3 separate regions of the Homo sapiens genome follow, and all the other regions are linked to region 2. The links come from fine-mapping of genetic effects on gene expression. A gene starts in region 2. Each other region holds a variant in brackets. All regions are shown on one strand. Distances are from middle to middle. Region 1 overlaps STX2 (syntaxin 2). Region 2 holds the start of STX2 (syntaxin 2). Region 3 overlaps STX2 (syntaxin 2).

Evidence for each region. PIP is the estimated chance that this variant, and not a neighbour inherited with it, causes the effect.
Region 1: its variant is fine-mapped to the expression of STX2 in whole blood (TOPMed, PIP above 0.99).
Region 3: its variant is fine-mapped to the expression of STX2 in whole blood (INTERVAL, PIP 0.92).

Annotation. Positions count from the first base shown.
Region 1 is chr12:130,799,765-130,807,768 of GRCh38, reverse strand. STX2 (syntaxin 2) reads left to right here. Exons shown (of 11, transcript NM_194356.4): 6 at 679-787; 7 at 6,281-6,354; 8 at 6,479-6,616. Among named protein-coding and RNA genes, the nearest start is that of STX2, 35 kb to the left of the region's middle. RefSeq lists an enhancer at 953-1,875. The variant G/C (reference allele first, on the strand shown) is at 3,207.
Region 2 is chr12:130,835,302-130,843,305 of GRCh38, reverse strand. It overlaps STX2 (syntaxin 2), which reads left to right and starts at 4,056. Exons shown (of 11, transcript NM_194356.4): 1 at 4,056-4,236. The coding sequence starts at 4,207. RefSeq lists silencers at 3,853-4,362, 4,433-4,492.
Region 3 is chr12:130,809,447-130,817,450 of GRCh38, reverse strand. It overlaps STX2 (syntaxin 2), which reads left to right. Exons shown (of 11, transcript NM_194356.4): 4 at 4,420-4,494. It also overlaps the pseudogene LOC124903117. Among named protein-coding and RNA genes, the nearest start is that of STX2, 26 kb to the left of the region's middle. RefSeq lists an enhancer at 3,343-3,582 and a silencer at 5,585-5,768. The variant T/C (reference allele first, on the strand shown) is at 4,758.

The sequences.
Region 1 (8,004 bases), 36 kb after region 2:
AAATCTCTTTATTGTGAAGAAAAATCTATTCGGTCCATCAACAGAGTTCTATTCCAAAGAGTAGGGAATTATCCAAATGATTTTAGTGTTTGTGGTAAGGCCGCCACGTTTTAGTGGTTTGTGGTACTGCCCAGAGGAAGACAGAGCCCTGAGGCCTCGAGGGCACGAGGCGATGAAGCACGCGGGCTCTGGGGTCCGCCTGCCTGGGTCCCCTCATGGGCACAAGGCGATGAAGCACGCAGGCTCTGGGGTCCGCCTGCCTGGGTCCCCTCATGGGCACAAGGCGATGAAGCACGCGGGCTCTGGGGTCCGCTTGCCTGGGTCCCCTCATGGGCACAAGGCGATGAAGCACGCGGGCTCTGGGGTCCACCTGCCTGGGTCCCAGTGCTGATCTGTGTTTATCAGAAAAGCCTGTGACCTTGGGCTAATGACCTCAAAGTCATGGTTTTCTTTAAGTAGGGTTGTGACCGGCATAGTAGGGGTCTTGTAAAAATTAGGTAAGATCATGCATGCAAAGTTCTTAGCACAGATGCTGCCATGGGGACTTTGCCATTGTCATTTTCCATTTGCAGGAGCAGAATAACATGTAGTTTGAGTTTCCAAAATGCATGTCTTGCATGTCACTTTCAGTAGAAGGCATGGCCCTCAGATACGAATGTAGTTTTCCTGTGTTGTTAGCATTCGGTGCTGTCTCGGAAGTTTGTGGAAGCCATGGCGGAGTACAATGAGGCACAGACTCTGTTTCGGGAGCGGAGCAAAGGCCGCATCCAGCGCCAGCTGGAGATAAGTGAGTAATGGAGACTCCGTCTTTGTTAAAATCATGTTTTTCTCCCTTAAGGTCTCACTTCAAATGACTTTAACTTCAGAAAAGGAAATCCATGTCTATTTTCACCAATAGTGTAAAACCCAAAGACCACTCGTAGCTTCCTATGCCGTGAGTCAGGCAAACCTGTTCTTCCTGTCTTCAGGAAGTCCTAAGCGGTGGGGTTTACCTTGCTCATTGCTGTTGCTTTTAGAGTTTCAGGGAGATTGGGAGAGTGCTCAGTCATTTCCTCTTTGAGTGTTTCTGTGTCCTCAGTCCCGCCCTGCCCTGGTTCGGGGGCATCTTCATGGCTCCTCACATCTCTCCTTGTCTGTGAGCAGAGGCAGCGGCCCTATTGCCCCAGACTCTTTTCAGGGGTGTCTATGGGGACAGTTGGCTGTGGCAGTGGAGATGGCGCCTTCTTCGGGGACAGACGGGTCTGTTTCAGGGATAAAGGTTGGTCAGGTTTGTAGACTCCCCATTGTGAAAGATTGGGGTTCCCAAGCTCGGGTCCTTCAGCTGTGACACAAACCCACTGTGAGGACGTCCCACTGCAGCTGCTCTGCCTCTCCCCATGAGACTGGGGGCCGTGGACAGCTGCTCATGAGCCTCAGGTTGCCTGCTGTGCTGTGAGTAGGAAATCCCTTTGTCCCTGACCTGGGGCCTTGGACCTTCTGCCGGCCCCCACGGAGCCCTGGCAGGCCAGCGTGTCAGCTCGCAGGTCAGATGAAGCCTCAGGCCCATCCCGGCTCCCAACGCCGCACATCCCCCTCAGAGAATGTTGTCATATGCCCGCCAGGCCGCTTGACCTTGTCCCACAGCTCAGCGAGGCTCCTCATGTTTTAGATACTCTTTTCCAGTGTGTTTGGTTTTGGTCAGTTTCTCTTGCTTGTCTGATCTGCCTTTAACCTCCTCTGGTGTATGTTTCATCGGAGACACTGGTTTCTGTTGCTAGTTCTGCTGGGTGTTTTACATGTCTGCTGTGTTGCTCCCCACTGTACAACTGGGACGCACTTGTAGTAACTTGAACCGTCTTTGTCTGCCAACTCCAGTGTCCTGTCTGCTCTGGTTGGTTGATTTCCTTCCTTTCTGTGGCTTGTGTTTTCCTGCTTCTTTGCGAGCCTGGTAAGTTTCGAGTGTGTGCCAGACATTGTGAACGTTACTTTGTTGGGTGCTGAGTATTTCTGTATTTTGAGTATTTTTGTAAATCTCCTTGGGCTTTGTTTTAGAATGTAGTTAAATCACATGAGCATGGTTTAGCCTTTGGGATCTTGCATTTAGAGGGAGCAGAGCAGCTTTATTTGAGGGCCTGTCATTCCTCACTCCTGAGGTAAGACCCTTCTGAGCACCTGCTCTGATGGCCGTGAACCTCATGGCACCCTCGTCTGCCTGGCAGCGTGTTCCCTCTGGCATGCTGGTCAGCACTCCAGTGAGCATGCGGGGTCTGTGCAGCTCGCTCTCTGCATCTCTCTCATCTCTCATACTCCATCTTGCAAATCCAGTTGCCTTGGTCTCCCCTGAGCTCTGTGCCTTTGCCTTAGGACTTCCCCTGGGCTCCACCTGGGCCCTTTCTGCTCTGTGGCTGACACGAGAGTTCCGTCTGAGGGCAGCAGCAGGCTCACCTGGCTTGTTTCCATCTGTTGGGAATCAGTGTGTGGCCTGATGCTCAGTGTCTTGGAAATCGTTTTGTAGATTTTGGTGGGTTTGTGGTTATTTCAAGTGGCAGGGAAAATACGGTCCCTGTTGCTCCATCCTGGCAGAAATGCTCAATCATGATGTCGACTAGACTGCTTTTCTATGAAAAAGTTTTTACAAACCACTTTGACTTCAGGGATCTGTTAGTACTTTTTAAAGTGAAAGTCATCATTACAGGCAGCCGGTTGCACTGTGAGGATTTATGCTCTGGGACTCTGTGGTGAGCGCTTTTCTAGCACAGAGTTCCCCAGCCTGGGCTTGAAGGCCCCGCACCATCTCTCCTGCAGGTCCATCCTGTCTTCACTCCCCATGTGAATCCGGTGGCGTGATCAGATCGCCTAAGTCTCTTCTCTCTTTCCCACATTATTCTATCTCAGCCCACAGAATTCATTTCCAGTTTCTTCTCTTGCAATCATACTCTATCGAATGCAGTACTGTTTGTGAAAGTGTCTTATAAGCAATGAAGTATCATATACGTGTTGGGAGTTTTTTTTAGTAATTCCTTTAAGTCTGTTAAATTCTAAACCCTCCATGTGGCTATTCCGAAGTGAGCAGGTCTATGCAAACTCACCCCCAAAGGCTGAGCGAGCTGAGACGCCAAAGAAAGAGGCTAACAAATCCAGTTTCTCGAAGGAAACATTGGCTAGGGACGTACGAACAGAAGCCCCCGAGAGACAGAGACGGTGGACCCCACAGCCGCCTGCCCTCA[G/C]AAAGTGTTCTTTATACAGCAGGCTTTCAGGGTAGAACGTGTGCAGCCGGCCCTGTCTTCTGACTTGCTTGACAACACTTGGGACCACTGGTCAGGCTGGATGAGCATCTTGATGAGAGGTTGCCTGTGCCGGAGGCATCGTCTTCAGACCTCATTGCAGAACAGCTTGGCATGCACGAGTCGAGCATCGGTCATCACGGTGGTTTTGCTTCAGGATGGCGTCACTCTGGCCACACAGCGGGCTGTCTTCATACAGTGGTCTTCTCCAAATCCTTGCACCTAAAACCATTTTGTCCCCTTTCTTTCTTCCTTCCGTCAGCCCTGTCATCAGGCAGGTTTCTTACCTTGTATCACAGGATATCTTTTCCTGTGCTGTATGCTTTGTTTCTTCAAATGGCAAGTGAGTTTCTTCTTGGACCAGGGCATGTTACATAGGTCCACAGTGCTTTCTCTGGAATGGTTGGGGCTGTATGTGTTTCAGAGTTCAGAATTTTTCAGATTTTAGGAAGATAGTACAATGTATAAGAGGTGTATTATGTAATCCCCAGGTGGGGTCTAGGACTGCACCCTGTAATCAGGCACATTCACACAGCTCTCCAGTGAAATGTGAGTATTCACAGTAAGGGGGAGGAGTTAAGATTATAAATAGCCATGACTCAGTTTAGGTCAGATTTTGCCGCTCATTGAATTTTGACATCGAGCTTAAGGAAAACCCAGTTTTCATAATGTTGTGGATTTCAGCATTCTGGATAAGGAATTACGAATGTATACTGCATTTCACATTCTGTAACCCCAGGCTGTTTCTTAGACTTAGCAGTTAGCCGGTGGGAAGACCTTTGTGAACGTGAGACATGAACTGTAACTTTTAGTTTGTTTTTTTTTTTTTTTTTTTTTTTGAGAGAGAGCCTCACGCTGTCACCCAGGCTGGAGTGCAGTGTTGTGATAACCACTTATTGTGGCCTTGAACTCCTGGATCCAAGGGATCCTCCCACCTCAGCCTCTCGAGTAGCTGGGACCACAGAAGCACACCACCATACCTGGCTAATTTTATTTTTTGTAGAGACGAGGTTTTCACTATGTTGCCCAAGCTGAAATTTCTAGTTTTGATGATTATATTTTACATTATTTAGAACAAGTTTCATGTTTTTAAAAAAGCAAAGCAAAACTCAGAGAATCTCCTTATTGAGCTATTTTGAATAGATTTTTAAGTTTTATTTTATTTTTTGTAGAGATAGGGTCTTGCTGTGTTGCCCAGGCTAGTCTCAAACTCCTAGCCTCAAGCAATCCTTCCACCTTGGTCTCCCAAAGCACTGGGATTATACATGTAAACCACCATGTGTGCTCTCAAATAGATTTTTAAATGATTGAGAATTACCTCCCAAAAAATAGTGTAAGTAAACAAATTTTGCAATTTACTAACTTTAAAACTTTTTTCATTAAATGACATCTCAACAACTTTATTGAGAAGTAAATCTCTTAATATGTGAATGATATTTGGAGCATACAATTAATTCAGTGGTTTTTGGTGTATTTCCACACACAATCAATTTAAAACACTTTTATCAACCCAAAAAGAAACTTCACACCCACCACCAGTCATTCCCCATTTCCTCTCCTAGCCCAAGACAACTGCATTCTACTTTTTACTCCTGTACATTTTCCCATTTTGGATGTTTCATATAAATGGAATTATACACTATGTGTTCTGTGACTGACTTCTTTCCTGTAACACAGTTTTTCCAAGGTTTCACCATGGGGTGGGCAGGGTGTGGTGGCTCACATGTATACTAATCCCAGCGTGTTGGTTGGGAAGCCAAGGTGGAAGGATCGCTTGAGGCCAGGAGTTCAAGACCAGCTTGACAACATAGCAAAACCCCATCTCTGTAAAAAAAAATAAAAATAAACCAGGCATGGGTGTGTGCCTATAATCACAGTCACTTGGGAGGCTGGAGCAGGAGGATTGCTTGAGCCTAGGAGGTCAAAGCGGCAGTGAGCTGAGATTGCACCACTACACTCCAGTCTGGGTGACAGAGTGAGACCGTATCTTTGTTAAAAAAATAAAAAGGGCTGGGTACGGTGGCTCACACCTGCAATCCGAGCACTTTGGGAGGCTGAGGTGGGCAGATCACTTGAGGTCAGGAGTTCGAGACCAGCCTGGCCAAAATGGTGAAACCCCACCTCTACTAAAAATACAAAAATTAGCCGGGCGTGGTGACGCACGCGTGTAGTCCCCACCACTCAGGGGTCAGAGGCATGAGAATTGCTTGAACCCGGGAGGAAGAGGTTGCAGTGAGCTGCGACGGTGCCCCTGCACTCCAGGCTGGGCGACAGAGTGAGACCCTGTCTCAAAAAACAAAGCGACAAAAACCAAAAGCGTCCTTTGTTTTTGTGGCTGAGTCGTATGTCAGTGTGCAGCTAGACCGCAGTTAGCTCCTTCAGGCATCGGGGGACGGACGTTTGCGTTGTTTCCACTTTTTGGCAATTATGAATAATGCTGCTTATTAGATGACATTTGAATTATGACATTTATTCATTTACTTTTGTCTTCTGTGGCACAAACTATGAAAAATAGTAATTAACAATTAGGTTTCCAAAACCTGTGTACATGTTTCTTCGAAGTCATTACACATTTAACTCAAAAGGAAAGCATTAACTTCCAAACATGGAAAGTGTTCAGGCATCTGACTCTCATTACGTGGACTTTATTGATCCTCATTTAATACATGCTACATTCAGCTCAACCCCCTTTTACATGAGGCGGAGTTAAACTCTTAGGGAAACCAGTGTGCCGAGACATTGTTTACCGATTTCCTTTCTGCAGTTGTTTCTCACTAATATTAAAATGAAATTTTATTGTTTATAACATTTACAAAGTTTCTCGGAGTATTTTTATTTCTTCTTGCTCCTCAATCTTAGGTTCACTTCTCATTGTCAATATCTGCTTAAGAAAAGGTTAAAAAAATTACTGAAAAATGCTAACAACTATGATTGTAGTTGCTAACTTATGGTTGCAAATGGCTTTGTTTTTAAATTGTGCTGCATTCTGAGTGGGGCTGTGGTTGCGGGTCTTTCAGCTGGGAGAACCACCACAGACGACGAGCTAGAAGAGATGCTGGAGAGCGGGAAGCCATCCATCTTCACTTCCGACGTGAGTGGGGGTGCGGCCCTGTGGCTCCATGTCCTCTTCTGTAGACAGAGCTTTTTAAAAACCCTTTAACTTCCAAACCCATCATAAGTTTATTAATATTATCTTTTATTTTTGTTTTTCCAAGATTATATCAGATTCACAAATTACTAGACAAGCTCTCAATGAAATCGAGTCACGTCACAAGGACATCATGAAGCTGGAGACCAGCATCCGAGAGTTGCATGAGATGTTCATGGACATGGCTATGTTTGTGGAGACTCAGGTAGTTACAGACTCTTGCATTCTCCAAGAGAGATATCAGTCATGTGTAAAATCTTACTGCATCCCACTCTGTCTAGTGGATGTATCTAGGAAAGCTGTTATTTTGGATCCACCAAATTCAGGTTAATTGCAGTGTTATATGTGATGCTGAAATGCTGGAAGCAGCTTTAACAGTTGAACTGTTAACAGGAAGGGACTGGTTCAGTTGATTAAATTATGGAGTGTTCATAGGTCAGCCTTTTAGGCAACCATAGGCAACCTAAACTTTGTTCATGGAGAATTCTTACTGAAATATGCAGATGTTTGTGCTAGAATTAAGAGAAAAGGGAGATACAAAGATCTTCTGTGTATGCCCGTACATATGTATGAGTACATAAACACAAACACATGGCACGAGCTTGGCTCCATAAAACAGTATCCACAGAAGGAAAGGCGTATATCAAACAGTGTAATGGCAGTGAGACTATGGGAATTTTAATCTTCTCTAAAAGTATTTATTTTCAGATTTTCTATAAGAAGCATATATTACAGTAATAACTAGGAGAAATGTCTGAAAGAATCAACCCCAAGTGGGGATACAATCTATGACACAGATGCAAGCTTGTGCCTGTTACACGGGGTTTCCCATCTGCCCAGTAACACAGATAGGGAGTGAAAGCAGGTGTGGAAAGGCCCTTCTGAGTGAACCGAAGAGTTAATGCAATTCTTAATAAATAGAAAACTCCTCTGGGAGGCTGAGGTGGGAGGATTGTTTATGCCCATGAGTTCAAGGCTGTGGTGAGCTATGATCATGCCACTACACTCCAGCCTGGGTGACAGAGTGAGACCCTGTCTCCAAAAAAAAAAAAAAAAAATACACACATATATATGTATGTATGTATATATTGAACTCTCCATGTAAAGTACGGGATGGATCACAGATCACATGCTCTGTGATGTGCATGGGTATGTTCACACTCGCTCTTTGTCTTTGAATAAGGTCTTCTCGTTATTTTTCAAATACCATGGAGATAAGACTCTGTTGCTGGTTAGGATTCAGCTGACCACCAGGTGAAGCGGAAGCATTTATATCAAACCATCCTAAGTAAATGGTTTCCTCACTTGTCCTGAGCCTGGTTTCGGATCTGTTTTGGCTGGAGTCATCCCCTAAGTAGGTTCACATCTGATGGGCTTATTTTCTGAGACTGCCTGGATTGTGTAAGGATAGGAATCCATCCACACACAGGATTGTTCCTGCCTGCTTCAGCAACCTTGTTAAGAAACACTGTATTTTGAAGAACTTTATAATGAGAATGTGTGTGAAAAACTCAGGCACCATGCCTATTTTTTTTTTTTTTTTTGAGACAGGGTCTTGCTCTGTTGCCCAGGTTGGAGTGCAGTGGTACAATC
Region 2 (8,004 bases):
CAGGCTGGAGTGCAGTGGCACAATCACAGCTCACTTCAGCCTTGACCTCCTGGGCTCAAGCAATCCTCCTGCGTCAGCCTCCTGAGTAACCTACAGGCACATGCCACCATGCCCAGCTAATTTTTAAAAATTTTTTGCAGAGACAGTGTTTTGCTATGTTGCCCAGGCTCCAGTCAGATTTTCTCGGGAATGTAACTTAGCCCTTTGTTTCTCTTTTCTTTCTTTCTTTCTTTCTTTCTTTCTTTCTTTCTTTCTTTCTTTCTTTCTTTCTTTCTTTCTTCCTTCCTTCCTTCCTTCCTTCTTCTTTCTTTCTTTCTTCCATATTTCCTTTCTCCTTCCTTCCTTCCTTTCTTTTTCCTTTTTTCTCCTTCCTTCCTTTTTTCTTTCTTCCTTCTTTTTTCCTTCTTCCTCTCTTTTTTCCTTCTTCCTCTTCCTCTGCCTCTTTCGCGTTTTCTTCTTTAAGTTTTTTAAACATTTATTTATTTATTTATTTATTTTTTAGAAACAGGGTCTTGCTCTGTGGACCCGGCTGGAGAGCAGTTGCATGATCACAGCTTACTGCAGCCTCCAACTCCTGGGCTCAAGCAATCCTCCCACCTCAGCCTCCATGTAGATTTCATTCAATTTTAGTGTTTGGCTGTTATGATGGTGTTTTGAACGCACTGTTGTGATCTGGTTGATGTTTTGACCCCAAAAACACCTTGACTGCATATGTATGTATGTAATATGAACAAAAATGATAAATTACACATTATTATTTATCAGGGGAAATTCAGCCAGATATTGGGCAAAATTCATCCCCAATATTTCACGTAGGTTATTTTCTATTTCCCCTAAGTGTTGGCCGGTCTGAGAAATAAAGGGACAGAGTACAAAAGAGAGAAATTTTAAAGCTGGGTGTCTGGGGGAGACATCACATGTCGGCAGGTTCCGTGATGCCCCCTGAGCCATAAAACTAGCAAGTTTTTATAAGCGATTTTCAAAAGGGGAGGGAGTGTACAAATAGGGTGTGGGTCACAGAGATCACATGCTTCACAAGGTAATAGAATATCACAAGGTAAATGGAGGCAGGGCGAGATCACAGGACCACAGGACCGGGGAGAAATTAGAATTGCTAATGAAGTTTCGGGCAGGCACTGTCATTGATAACATCTTATCAGGAAACAGGGTTTGAGAGCAGACAACTGGTCTGACCAAAATTTATTAGGCGGGAATTTCCTCGTCCTAATAAGCCTGGGAGGGCTACAGGAGACTGGGGCTTATTTCATCCCTACAGCTGCGATCTGTATATACATATAGCTTGTATGTACTATATGTGTGTATATAGCATGTATACACTATATGTGTGTGTATAGTATGTATATACTATATATTTATAGTGCATGTGTGTATGTGTATATATATATTTTTTTAGACAGGGTCTCACTCTGTTGCCCAGGCTGGAGTGCAGTGGCACAGTCACAGCTCACTTCAGCCTTAACCTCCTGGGCTCAAGCAATCCTCCTGCCTCAGCCTCCTGAGTAGTCTACAGGCACATGCCACCATGCCCAGCCACCCCCAAAGCGGCCATTTCAGAGGCCTACCCTCAGGGATGCTTTCTCTTTCTCAGGGATGTTCCTTGCTGAGAAAAAGAATTCAGCAATATTTCTCCCATTTGCTTTTGAAAGAAGAGAAATACGGCTCTGTTCCGCCTGGCTCACCGGCAGTCAGAGTTTAAGGTTATCTCTCTTGTTCCCTGAACATTGCTGTTATCCTGTTCTTTTTTCTAGGTGCCCAGATTTCATATTGTTCAAACACACATGCTCTACAAACAATTTGTGCAGTTAACAAAATCATCACAGGGTCCTGAGGCGACATACATCCTCCTCAGCTTACGAAGATGATGGGATTAAGAGATTAAAGTAAAGACAGGCCTAGGAAATCACAAGGGTATTGACTGGGGAAGTGATAAGTGTCCATGAAATCTTCACAATTTATGTTCAGAGATTACAGTAAAGACAGGCATAAGAAATTATAAAAGTATTAATTTGGGGAACTAATAAATGTCCATGAAATCTTCATAATTTATGTTCTTCTTCCATGGCTTCAGCCGGTCCCTCCATTCAGGGTCCCTGAATTCCCACAACGATTATTCACAACTTCATTTTTTTTCTCTGGCAGGATAAGGAAAGTTTTGAGGTTGGGCATGGTGGGCTCATGTCTGTGGTCCCTGTGCTTTTGGAGGCTGAGGTGGGAGGATTACTTGAGCCCAGGAGTTCAAGGCGGCAGTGGACTATGACCATGCCACTGCACTCCAGTCTGGGAGACAGAATAAGACTCTGTCTCAAACAAACAAACAAACAAACAAAAAGTTTTGGTTGCCAATTCAACACCATCCAGCTGCTGCCAATATTATCATATGTTTTTGAAAAATCCACTGGGAGAGAGGGAGAAACGAGGGAGGGCCCAGTATTTACCAGAGAGGGAGAATTAAAATGGTGGTGGCAGAGGCAAGAAGGCCGAAAGAAAAGCACTTGCCTGTTGCGGGGTCCAGGAGGCATTCTGGTGGGGAAGTTCAGGATATGGAGAGAAAAAACATATCTTTTTTTTTTTTTTGGAGACGGAGTCTCGCTTTACTGTCCAGGCTGGAGTGCAGTGGTGCGATCTTGGCTCACTGCAAGCTCCACCTCCCGGGTTCAAGCAATTCTCATGCATCAGCCTCCTGAGTAGCTGGGATTACAGGTGCCCGCCACCACACTCACCTGGACAACTGGCTGTCAAGACCTTCCATCGGGTAACAGAACCACATCACACCTAGAACCAAGTCCAAAACGTCCTGTTTTTTAATGTGTAGCCTGTTGCTCTCAAGCAGATTTCTTAGCGCTGCCTTCTGGTCAGACCAAAGCCACCTCCTCCAGGAGGCAGTAAAGACTTTAACCTTGTTTAAAAACAAATCTGGCCTTGCCTTCTCCTCCTGGAAGGCAATCTTTGTTTGCCTGGGAGTCTTCGGCTAGCCAGAGAGTAACAGTGTGATTTATGGTGGGGGCTTAGGGTTACATGGATATCACTTAACCAAGAGGCTGAGATCAAGCATGAAAGCAATCAAACAATCAATCAATCATGCACATGCAATGGAGCCCAGTAAACGTTCTGCACACTGTGGCTCAAGTGAGCTTCCCTGGCTGGCAGTACTTCGTGTGTAAGGCCACACATCAGTGCAGGGCAAGTAATGAGGCCTGACTACACAGGGAGAGGACCACGGGAGGACCTTGAAGCTGCACGCCGTAATCCCCAGACTCCCCCTCTGCCCTTCTTCCTTGGCTGATGTTAATCCGTATCATTTTCCTGCTAAGAAACCATAGTTGTGAGTACAGTAGTTTTTAGTGTATTCTGTGATTCCTTCTAGCAAATTATGGAACTTGAAGGTGGTTTTGGAAACCGCCAGAATTTGCCGTTGGTGTCAGAGGTGATAATGGTCTTGGGGACTGTTCCCCCAACCTGGGTAGTTCACCTAAGCTCCTGCACCTTCATGACGACCTCTCTGCCAGTTCCGTGCCCATGCCCTTACTTTCTTTTCTCATCTATCATTTATTTGTCTGTGTCTGTATTGCCTGTTTCTCCTGCCAGAATGGTATCCCAGGGCTGGGCCTGCGGACGCTCTTCCCGTTACCGCCCCCTGCCGTGTTATGCTCCGTAAGCATCATGTGTGGTACACGATCTCTTCTCCTTCATTCACACCCGAGGCTGCGCGTGGACCCTTAAAGAGAAGGTTCGGCATATGTATTACCCAAAGCTGCACCCAGCACATTCCGGGAGCTTTGCTCTTTTGTCACTATTCGTTGAATGCTCTATATTTTGATAAATAAAACAATGAGTGTGAAAGCATAAAAGCAGATCAAGGGACAAACAGCACGTGTAGCGGAACTGCCAGCCTGGGGCTCGGCCGGACCCCGCCCCTCCCCGCCTAGGCCCCGCCCCCAGGCCCCGCCCCTCCGGGCTCCCGCTGGAAAGCGCTGCCGCCGTGTGGGTGGGTGCGGGGCGCGGCGCGGGCCGGGCATGCGCAGAGCGCGCGGGGCGCGGTTGCCGTGGCAGCGCCGGCTCCAGGGAGGGCTGCTGGCGCCGGGCCGGGACCGCGGGGCCTGAGGCGGAGACCGGAGAGCCCGAGGCCCGGCCGGAGGCAGCTCGGGACAGGCTTGAGCGGCGGGGCGCGCTGCCCGGCCGGCGGGGATGCGGGACCGGCTGCCAGACCTGACGGCGGTGAGCGGCAGCCGCGGGTAGCGGTTCAGGCCCGGCCGGGGCGGCGTCTGGAGGGCGGGCGGGGGCTCGGGGCGTCTTGGGCGGGGCTCCGGGAGGGTCCCCAGGGCGGGGATCTCCGGCGTTCTGGGGCGGGGGCTGCGGGCAGGGTCTCAGGGAGTCCTGAGCGGGGACTGCTGGTGGGGTCCCCAGGGCGGGGGTCCCGGGAGTCCTAGGGTGGGGGCTCCGGGCGGGGTCCCCAGGGCTTCCTGGGCGGAGTCCTCAGGGCGGGTTGGGGCAGGAGGAGGGAGCGGGGAAGGTCCCGGCCTCGACCCCCTCTTCGAGCGTGGCTCCCTGTCCGTCACTCCGCTTGGCGGATTGTATCTGGCGCTTACCCAGCCGGAGCCCACTGGCCTAACTGTGGTCCGCCCCACGGGGTCCCCGCAGCTGGCGTCAGCCCCGGGGAGCAGGCCGGGTCCTCTTGGTCGCTGCTTTATCCCTGGGGCTTCACAAAGGACTGTGCACCAAGCGGGAGGCAACAGATGGGTGTGAAATGTGGGCACCTTAGAGTGCTGGGTGCTTGGGGTGGGGCGAGCGCGAACAGCAGCTTGTGTCTGATCTCCCAGTAGTTTGCTTTGGAAACTGGGACCGTGTGTTGACTCTGAACGCACCTTACGCGCCCAGCAGCCGGGCACACAGCAAGTTACTGTTTACTTTAGCAAGGGAAAAGCAGGTCACTAAAAATTTTGGAAGGATTTCGATGCATTCTACACGTGTAAAGGTGACAGGACTGTGCATGGTGCAGTGACAGCGGAATGATAGTGATGGTCGTGCACTTTCCAAGCTTGTCTAACCCAGGACGGCTTAGGCCAGCAGAAGTAGTTATGACTTTTTCCCTTTACAATACAGGTACTAATTCATGCTACGTGTGTGCACAGATAGAGCCTCTGGTCTCTAAATTGTTGGCAGCCTCAGAACAGGGGTGCTAAGGCCCACAGCCCTACGACACCCACTGCATGTAATGAATTATTCTCTCTCCTCTGCTGCTAGAATGGAGCTGTTATGTACCCCCGAGTGGGAGAATAGAGAAAAGAGCCACTTAAATCATTATCTGTGTTCTGTGGTTCAGATGAGGAGCTCTGGTTGAGAAAGGCAATGATTTCATCCTTAGGATCATGGAAATTATGCTTTATATTCATTCCAAGGAAGTTTCTTCACGGTGATTTTTCCTTTTTTATTAATGGACAAATATTCCCTGTGTTCCGCAGATCAATATCATCTTAAACACAGCAAATTATAGTTGTGTTGTCTTGCCCGATGGATTATCTTTCAGTGCCGTGTAGTAGGAGCTCAGGTATTTATTTAATGAAGAAAAGCTGTGGCTCACTCCTGTAATCCCAGCAGTCTGGGAGATCAGGGTGGGGGCATCACTTGAGCCCAGGTATTGGAGACCAGCTTGGGCAACACAGGGAGACACTGTTTCTCGAAAAAAATTAAAAAATTAGCAGGAGGCCAGTCGCAGTGGCTCATGCCTGTAATCCCAGCACTTTGGGAGGCCGAGTTGGGTGGACCACTTGAGGTCAGGAGTTGGAGACTAGCCTGGCCAACATGGCAAAACCCCGTTTCTACTAAAATAGCCGGATGTCATGGCGCACACCTGTAGTCCCAGCTACTCTGGAGGCTGCGGCAGGAGCATCGCTTGAATCCAGGAGGCGGAGGTTGCAGAAAGCCGAGATTGTGCCACTGTACTCCAGTCTGGGCAACAGAAAGAGACTCTGTTTCAGAAAAACCAACAAAACAAAGCACGCACAAAAAAACTATCCAGGTGTGACTCGCACCTGTAGTCCTTGGTACTCAGGAGGCTAAGCTAGGAGGATTCCTTGAGCCCAGGAGATAGAGGCTGCAGTGAGCCATGATTGTGCCATGCCACTGCACTCCCGCCTGGGTGACAGAGTGAGACATTGTCTCATAAAAAAAAAAAAAAAAAGCTCAATGTCATTGAACGTGAGAGCTGTGACTATTTTGGCAAAATACAGCCAAATTTATATGTTGGGGAATCGTGAGAAAGTACGTTTTCTTGGCTTGAATAGCAAAAAGCAAATAAGGCAATTATTTGTCACTCAGTTTCTATATATCCAAACCCTTCCTGAAACAGTAGAACATGTCAATCAGTTTTGTTCTAGAACGGCAGAGCTAGAAGTCAGCTCATCTACTTCAATACCATCCTGCTTTAGACACAGCAGCTGAGCAGTCAGAGAGTATATCCGTGGAAGTTTCCACTCATGGAGTTTCTCATCTTGGGCAAATAATTTTTAAATCTCTCAAAACTTTTTCTTGTACGTGAAATGGGGACAGTGGTATCTCTCTTGTCCACCTCATAGAGGGAGTTATGAAGCATAAAATTATCTAATGTGTGAAGCTCTGGGAGAAGGTGGGAGGGAGCAAGTGCTATGTAATTATAAGTGTGATTAATGTTTACCAGATTTTTTGTTTTTAGGGAGTTATAAAAAGCAGCCTTCTGGCTGGGCACAGTGGCTTTCACTTGTAGTCCCAGCACTTTGGGAGGCTGAGGTGGGCAGATCATTTGAGCTCAGGAGTTCAAGACCAGCCTGGGCAACATGGCAAAACCCTGTCTTTACAAAAAACATACAAAAACTCAGCCAGGTGTAGTGGTGCATGCCTGTGGTTCCAGCTACTCAGGAGGCTGAGGTGGGAAGATTGCTTGAGTCCAGGAGGCGGAGGTTGCAGTGAGCCAAGATTTTGCCACTGCCCTCCAGCCTGGGCAACAGACAGATTGAGACCCTGTCTCAAAAAAAGAGAAAAGAACAACCTTCTCCCTAGTATAAAATAGTAAGTTAAAACTGAATTTGAAGTTTAATAACTTTTAATATTTAAAAACCCATCTTAAAGTTACCAGATACAAGTTTAATTCCCCTCCCCCGCCCCGCCCCAGGAAATGTGTCCTTTCCCAGTAGTTCTTAGAGTAGTTGAATGTGTACTCACAACCGTGCTTGTAAATGGCTGGTGTTTTTTTCTAGGTAAAGTTGAATATTTTGTTGGTTAAAATGCCTCATCAACAATGTCTGATTAACAAAGTATTTGTGATGCTTCCATGAAGTTTCTTTTCTTAGCTGCTGATGCTTGTTCCTGTGAAGAACGTGCCTCTGACAGTTACGTGGACAGGGCTTAAAGAGTAATCTGCTCAATACAATCTGTACTGACAGATGTAGTTTCTAACCAGTGATGCTGTTTTTGAGCAACCAGTCATTTGGGCATAGAAAGTTTGCGTGACTTGGTCCAGATCTCTGACACTCTAAATCCAGAAAGATATTTCTGATTTACAGAAAGTAAAAGACTCGCCCATCCAGCAGGTACTTGAATGTCAGGCCTCTAGCAGATCATGTGCTGGGTGCAGAGAGACACAGCAGTGAACTGAGCGTGGGTGGGGATGCATGCAGCCTGGGAAGGAAGAGTGACCGAGGTGTAATGAAATTCACTGTAGGACGTAAGCAAAATGGAATAGCTATTCTATAAGATAACCACCCCAAACGTATTTTGATTACTTTTTAAAAAAAGTTTATGAACATTGATGTATTTATATTTGATACATATATATGATATATCTATTTATTATAGTGAAGAATAGAGAAACCACACATTTCATCTGTGGGAATTGTTTGCATGATAATAAACAATAAATACACAGTAGCTGTGTGGTGTTCTTAGTAGACCTAAAAGAAATGAGAACGTTATTTTTCATCCTGGTTTCAAGGTGATGAATTGCAAATCTCT
Region 3 (8,004 bases), 26 kb after region 2:
TCCTCTTTTGTTCTCTATTTTTCATCATTTTTTCTCTATATATTTTATTTTGAAAATGTTTTCCCTGACTTATCGTTTGATTTCTCTTCAGCGATTGTCTTTCAGGTCAGGGAATCTTTCTTCATCTATGGAATTATTTTTGGATTGGTTTTAACTCCTAGAATTCCACTTGGTTCCTTTTAATACTGTCCTATTCTCTGACAAAATTTATGATCTTACATTTTATCTCTTTGAATGTAATTGTTTTAACGTCTGTGTCTTGTAACTTTATTAGCTGGTGCCTCTGTGGATGGGTTAGTGTTGTCTCTTTTTGTTGGGTTTTCATTCATGTGTTTTTTTTTTTCTTTGTTTGCCTGGTTATTTTTGATTGAGTTTTGAGCTTTGTATTGGAATTATTTGCAGTAATAATTTGAGTCCTGAATGGTATTTTCTTTTTAAAGAGATGATTTATTTTTATTTCTGGCAGATGGCTAGAAGCACCAGCAATTCTGGATCTAATTTTAGGGATTGAGATGATTTAGACTGAGGCTTCAGCCCCTGCGAGGGCCAGCTTCCCACCTGACTGTTCCTCCTAGGGCATTGTCTCTCCAAGTCAGCACAGTTTTCTCAGCTTCTCTGCAGCTCAGCTGCCTTTTATGGAGTTGGCACATGCCCCCAGGTAAAAGTGGCTGCAAAAGTGGGGCCCATGTCTTTGGGTTTTCTTCTTCTGAGTCTTCTTTCCTGCCTTGTTAGGTTTCTTTTGTTTTTATTTCTTTTTTTAATTATTTTATTTTATTTATTTTCGCACCTTGTTAGGTTTCTAATGGCTTTACACAGATTTAGAAAGAGTATTGTGTCTACCCTTTCTAATTGTTCTCAGCAGCAGGATTGAGCTGAATCACCTAGGCCGCTGGAAGAGGAGGTTCCTGATCCCCGTCTGGTCTCTGATTTGAAATACCACCTTTATCAAATGTGACCTTATGGCCTGCGTCTGCAGCTTGCAGGATCAGACAGGCAGTGCCTCTTTTGTTTTGCTGATGAGTTGCTCAAGCCCCGTGGGCCTGTAGTGGCAGCAAGTTCACTCCGTCATGAGTGCCCCCCACCCCTGCTGTGTAACGGCCAAGGGCTTTCTTTCCCCAGGGGAGTGAGTCCTGCTGTGGCCCGCCAGCTCAAGAGGGAGACTCTCATCCACTGGCAGGCCCAGCTCTCAGATCTTGTGGTTTCTGTGGCTGCGCGGTGGCTCAAGACCGTCTCCCGAGTCTAGTCGTCCTCAGCTGTGCTCAGGCGCTGGCTGGGCCGGACCCCTGCACAAATGCCCTTGCTGTGTGTACGTTTTAGCTTCGACTCCTACACTCAGCCCTCATTCCCCAGGCACAGTGGCCAGGCCTTGGGGGTGTTTGCATCAGCCTCACGCACCACAGGAGCCAGCACCCCTGCCACAAACTATGGACCTGCCACCCTCTTTATTCATAGCAAGTCTCTCTAATTCCTGTCAAATGCCCCATTTTATAAGGCATTTTGTGTTCCCTTTACTATTCTAAAATGAAGTTCATAGATGATATAGCCTACCTACCTCCATGATTTTAAAAAAACATATAATATCCAAACTAATATGAAGGAGACATAAAATGGAAGTAACTTACATATTGAAGTACAAATTGTATTGTGCAGGCTCAGGCACAACACCAGAAAACAAAATTCAGGCGCTTGCCCCCCTACAAACAAGTGCTGTGACTGTCACAGCCAAGGCTGCAAGCTGATGAGGTGCTGTGATTCAGCTGCCGTTAGCAGGCTTCCCTGTGCTTTTCCTGAGGCAGTAGGTGTCACTGAAATAGACTGAAGTACAGCTTTCTCGCCATGCAGAGCGGTGACACGGCAGTTGCATTCCTGAAAATCCACTGGATATTGAAACGATGCAGATGAAAACAGGGCTTATTTGTAAGCTGGAGTCAGGTTCTGGGCTCAGGAAAACAGGTCTTTTCTCCTGCCTGAGTGAGCAGCGTGCATCTGGCAGTTATGCAGGCCAGTGGGTGATGTGCTGATGTAATGAGGTTCGAGGGTGGCACATCTCACACGCGCACGAACACCCCGTCGTCACGCTCAGGAACTACAGGAGGATGGAGGCCAGTTCTTTGTTGTGTGGTGCTGGCTGGTGCCATTCCTGGCTTATGTCTTCTGGATGCCAGTGGCTCTCCCTTTTTTATGATGACTGGAAATACCCCACAAATTTCAGAATACCCCTTGGGGTGGTAGAAAGATTCCCCTGAGAATCTCCCTTTAGAAACATGTTCACAGAGGAGAATCACGAAATGACCCCTTTGTGTCTAGTTTCTCTTTTTTTCTAGTTTCATCCATTATCAGAATAATTTTTCTTTGTTTTTTCTTTTTCTTTCCTTTTTTAAATAGAGATGGCATGTTGCTAGTTGCCCAGGTTGGCCTTAAAGTCCTAGGCTTAAGTGATCCTCCTGCCTCAGCCTCTGAAGTAGCTGGGACTACAGGTGCACGCCACTGTGCCTTGCTTAAAAATAATCTTTTTAGGCTGGATGCAGTGGCTCACGCCTGTAATCCCAGCACTTTGGGAGGCTGAGGTGGGCGGATCTCGAGGTCAGGAGCTCAAGACCAGCCTGGCCAATATGGCGAAACCCCATCTCTACTAAAAATACAAAAATTAGCTGGGTGTGGTGGCGGAGGCCTGTAATCCCAGCTACTTGGGAGGCTGAGGCAGGAGAATCGCTTGAACCCAGGAGGCGGAAGTTGCAACGAGTCGAGATTGTGCCACTGCACTCCAGCCTGGGTGACAAGAGCAAGACTCTGTCTCAAAAAAAAAAAAAAAAAAAAAAAAAAGTCTTTCTAATGCATCTTTGCTGATGCCTTTCTTTGCTGAGAAACCTTCAGTGCTGACTGGTGCCCTCAGTAAAAGCCCCAAACTCAGCTGGGCCTGCACACTCCTGCCCAGGCAGCCTGTAGTTGGCCTCCTCCCACGCCAGTCACTACAGCCCACCGTCCCGCTGCTCTGTGCCATAGACCCTTCTTCTGCCTGGAATGGAAGCCACCAGTCTCTCCACTCCCAGGTCAGATGTCCCCTCCTGTGGGACAGCTGCAGCAGACGCTTCTCCTCCTCGCTGCCCATGGCATTTTGTGAACCCTGTCTCGTCCGTTGTTAGTCTCTGCGTGGCATTGGCGCTTCCTGGGTTTGTCTTGTCTGTTTTTACCGAGTTGTTAGGTCCCTGGCGGTCTTGTTAGCCTCCTTAGATGACACGGGCCTGCACACAGAAAGTACTCAGTAGGTGTCACTGGTGCGTGACCTGTCACCTCTGGAGATCACTCAGTCTCTGATCTGGCTCTGAAACCCTGGACGAGCCAGGCTGCGTCTGATGACTGTAGCTGAGCATGGAAAGAAGACTTAGCACACGCTTGTGTGCAGTGGGTACTCGGGGCACCCTGCGTATGCTCAGCTGAGGGGGTGTCAGGAAGAGAGTGGGCATCTCTGAAAGCTTTCATTCTTGGCCAAGTTGTCTACGGCAGAAACGTTTGCCTTTTCCCCGGCTGATGCGTGTGAGATTGAGTGAGAGAGGCAAGTGCAGGACTCTCTAAAACGACAACAGGACTCCAGAGACGGGGCGGGGGCCTTCCTGTTTCAGCAACTTCTGCCCAAAGGAGAGAGAAACCCCCTTCCCTTCTGGTCACTTCAGCCACTGGACTGGCAAATGTGAGTGTGCGGCATGGAGCAGACATCCTGCCACCCTCCCTGGGCTCTGGGGCAGCTAGGCATGAAAGCAGAGGCTGCTATGACGCCCTGGGTGGCCTTAGGTCTCAGCACTGCCCTGGAGTGTCAGCTCCTGCTCTGCTGGCCTCCCTCCGTGTTAGGAGGCCGGCCCCTGCCTCCATCGCCCCCTGCTTGCAGCCCTGAGTGTCTGAGAAGCCAGGCCAGGGCGACCGGCCCAGCAGCCCTGAAGTGGTGGCTGTGATTATTCGGGCGTTTTGGGGAGACAGCTGACAGCACAAGAGAAAAGCACACACACGGGAGACTTTGTTGAGATCATCGTTACGTCTCCGTTTTCCTTTCCCAGGTCTAGGTGTTAGCAGTGGATTTAGGCAGCAGTTTCATTCATGGGTATAGAGCAGCAAGTCTCAAACTTGTGTCACCTGGAGGGTTTGCTAACTCAGATTGCTGGGCCACTGTCCCCACCTCAGTTTCTGAGTAGGTCCAGGGTGGGCCCCAGGGATTTGTGTTTCTACTAAGCTGCCACCTGATATTTATGAAAGCTGCTGTCTAGGGACCCACCTTGAGAACCACTGGTATAAGCGGTAGTTTTTCTTACAGAAAAAAAGTGAATATTTACTAAGGATACTGTTTCACTTAAATTTATTGGATATCATTTATGTTGGATATTATAGCTCAGATGCTGTATTTTATTTTTTAATTTTAAATTTTTATAGAAATAAAAGAAGAGCTTGAAGATCTGAACAAAGAAATCAAGAAAACTGCGAATAAAATTCGAGCCAAGTTAAAGGGTAAGTTTGAAGTTTTATGTTTAATTATTGATGTTGGGAGTATGGGTATTTGTTATTTTTTTCTTTATTGGTTTTTGTTCTTTTACATTTTTAAAAATTAAAATAGTGACTGCTTTAAAATAAATTATTTGTATGTAATTCAGAGTACTAATTAATATTCAAAAAGGTTATGTGTTTGCTTATAAACTGTTATACTGTTACATTTTTGATGACATTTCAGGCTAAGTTGCAGATGTTTGGGAAGGTGAGTTGCCAGGCTCTTC[T/C]TGAATGGACCCTTTAATTGCTCATTTCTTTCAAACTTTCTGTAGAATTTATTCGATGATGTTTGGCATTCCACTTTAGCAGCAGTAGTTTTTTGGGAGGCTTATAGCTTTGTCATGTAAAACAGGGGACTTAAACAGAGGTTGCTTTTTCTCGATTTGGTAGAAAACATGTTGTATTTGATTTTTGCAGAATGGCATCAAGATCAAAAACAATCTCTGTGCAGATGATAAAATACTTTTATTACGGCAGGTTTCAGATGTGTGCAGAAGCAGAGAGAGGCGACCACAAGCCGACCCCCCAGCTCCACAGTTCTCCATGAGCTCCCACCCGCACCCGCTCCCAGACTATTCTGAAGCCCATCCCAGGCATCTGAGATTTCATCAGTGTGTATTTCAAAAACAGAAGCTTCCCCAAAAGCACAACCACAATTATATCTAAACCCAAATTCATTATAATTACTTAATAGTACAGAATATCCAGGCAGAATTTCCCCAGTGGTCTTACGATTTTTTTTTTTTAAACAGTTTGCTTGAATTGAGTCCCAAATAAGGACCAAACCCTGGCTTTTAAAAATGAGATTCTCCCTTCATGATTTTTCTCTCTGCACTTTTTCCTTTGGTTGGTGAAACCAGGTCATTTGTCCTACAGAATCTGCCATGCTGCAGATTTTGCTGATTTTACCTCTGCAGCACATTTAATAGGCTCTGCCGTCCTCTGAATTTGCTGTAGGTTGGTAGTTAAATTCTCCAAGCTTTATCTGATTCAGGTGTTTTTTGTGGGTTTTTAAAATGTAAAGATGCAGCATCTGATTACAGATTTTATGTCCTCATGGTTACGTTAAGATGTTAATGGTGGCCTGGCACGGTGGCTCACGCCTATAATCCCAGCACTTTGGGAGGCCGAGGCGGGTGGATCACAAGGTCAGGAGATCGAGACTTATCCTGGCTAACACGGTGAAACCCCGTCTCTACTAAAAATACAAAAAATTAGCTGGGCGCAGTGGCGGGTGCCTGTAGTCCCAGCTACTCAGGAGGCTGAGGCAGGAGAATGGCGTGAACCCAGGAGGCAGAGCTTGCAGTGAGCCGAGATCACGCCACTGCACTCCAGCCTGGGCGACAGAGCAAGATTCCATCTCAAAAAAAAAAAAAAAAAAAAAGATGTTAATGGTGACATTAACATTTTTTCTTGGCTCTAAGTAAGTTCAGTAAAATTTTAAATAAGATATAACATTCTTTTCTATTCTGTGATATTGTCAAAAATGGATGATTATTTCCAAGATCCATAATTCATTAGAAGTTGCAAGCAGTAATATCCTGATTTTTTTTTTTTTTTTTTGAGACAGAGTCTCACTCTGTCACCCAGGTTGAAGTGCAGTGGCACAATCTCGGCTCACTGCAACCTCCACCTCCTGGACTCAAGCGACTCTCCTGCCTCAGCCTCCTGAGTAGCTGGGACTACAGGCGCCCGCCACCACGCCTGGCTAATTTTTGTATTTTTAGTAGAGATGGGGTTTCGCCATGTTGGCCAGGCTGGTCTCAAACTCCTGACCTCAAATGATCCGCCAGTCTCAGCCTCCCAAAGTGCTGGGATTACAAGCATGAATATCCTGATTTTATTCTTCCTTCTTTGTTTAGTTGCTGGAATAGTTAAAAAGAAACCTTTCCCCTTCAACTCTTGAATTGGGTAGTTTGGAGAATTTAACTATGAGCCCACAGTAAATACAGAGGACAGCAGAGCTTACTGAATGTGTTGCAGGGTGAAATCAGCAAAATGTGCAGTGTGGCAGGTTCTGTAGGACGAATGACCTGGCTTCTCCAACCAAGGGAGCCAAAGCACATTCTGGGTCACAGATCATGGAGGACAGAGAGGATCAGCGTTGGACTCTCTCTCTCTCTGGTATAATTTTCATAGGTCAGTTCCCTGGGGTCCTCCAGAGATGACCAGGGAGAGTCTCTGTTGCTGCTTGTCGTCCATCATCGTGAACACATGGATTTAAACACATCTGATGTTTTCATTGCTGCATTATCCTTAATGCTCAGATGGTCTCTTTGGCTAGTAGGGTGGACTCTTGAGTCCTTTTGGTAGGCCCCTCATTGTCTGTGACAGCCTTTCCACTTTTTGCTGTGACAAAAGTCCCCATGCTCATTTCACCCCTTTCCTCCCTGGGCCTGGCATCAGCCATTTCCCCAGGAAGCCCTGCTCCTGTGTCTGAAGAATGTGATCTAGACACCGAGGTCAGCATGCTGGGGAATGTATTGCTATACATGACGATGACCTGACCATTCTTTCCTAGGCTTTTTCAGTGGACTGGGCTAAGATTTTTTTAAAAGATAAAATGAATCATGATTTGTTACTGAGAATCCAAATTAAATTAAGAATAAAGGAAGGACTAAAAATTTTTTTGAAAGGATTTTTACTTAATAAGGGCAATATTACATCTTTATTTCCTTTCAACTATGCCCCAAATTCTGGTTCTCACTGACACATAATTATTCACTTGCTATTCATAGTACACACACAACAGACTCAAAATAATTATGCCAGCATCTACTGTCAAGAGTATGATTACTTAAAGGTTTATTTTTTATTTTTTGTGTCATTCTTTTTGTCTATAGGTATATCCCACTGGGCTAGATAATCAAATTACTTTTTGTTGTTGTTGTTGTTGTTTGACCTGGGGTCTTGCTGTGCTGGCCAGGCTGGAGTGCAGTGACTGTTCACCAGTGTGATCATAGCGCACTACAGCCTCGAACTCCTAGGCTGAAGTGATCCCCCGAGCACTTGTGACTACAGGTACACGCCACTGTGTCCAGCTACAAATTACTGGGTTTTAAAGTTGCTTTGAATAGTTTTTCCTCTGTGTGTTTATTTTTTTGAGATGGAGTTTCGCTCTTGTCGCCTAGGCTGGAGTGCAATGGCACTATCTCGGCTCACTGCAACCTCCGCCTCCTGAGTTCAAGCAATTCTCCTGCCTCAGCCTCCCGAGTAGCTGGGATTACAGGCACCCGCCACCACACCCAGCTAATTTTTGTATTTGTAGTAGAGACAGGGTTTCACCATGTTGGCCACGCTGGTCTCGAACCCCTGGCCTCAAGTGATCCGCCTGCCTTAGCCTCCCAAAGTGCTAGGATTACAGGCGTGAGCCACTGCACCCGGCTCCTCTGTATGTTTATATCATTAACTTGACTTACTGTTAGGTTTGCTTTATTTTTTCTTTGAAGTTTAGGGATTAATTTTTTTAAATTT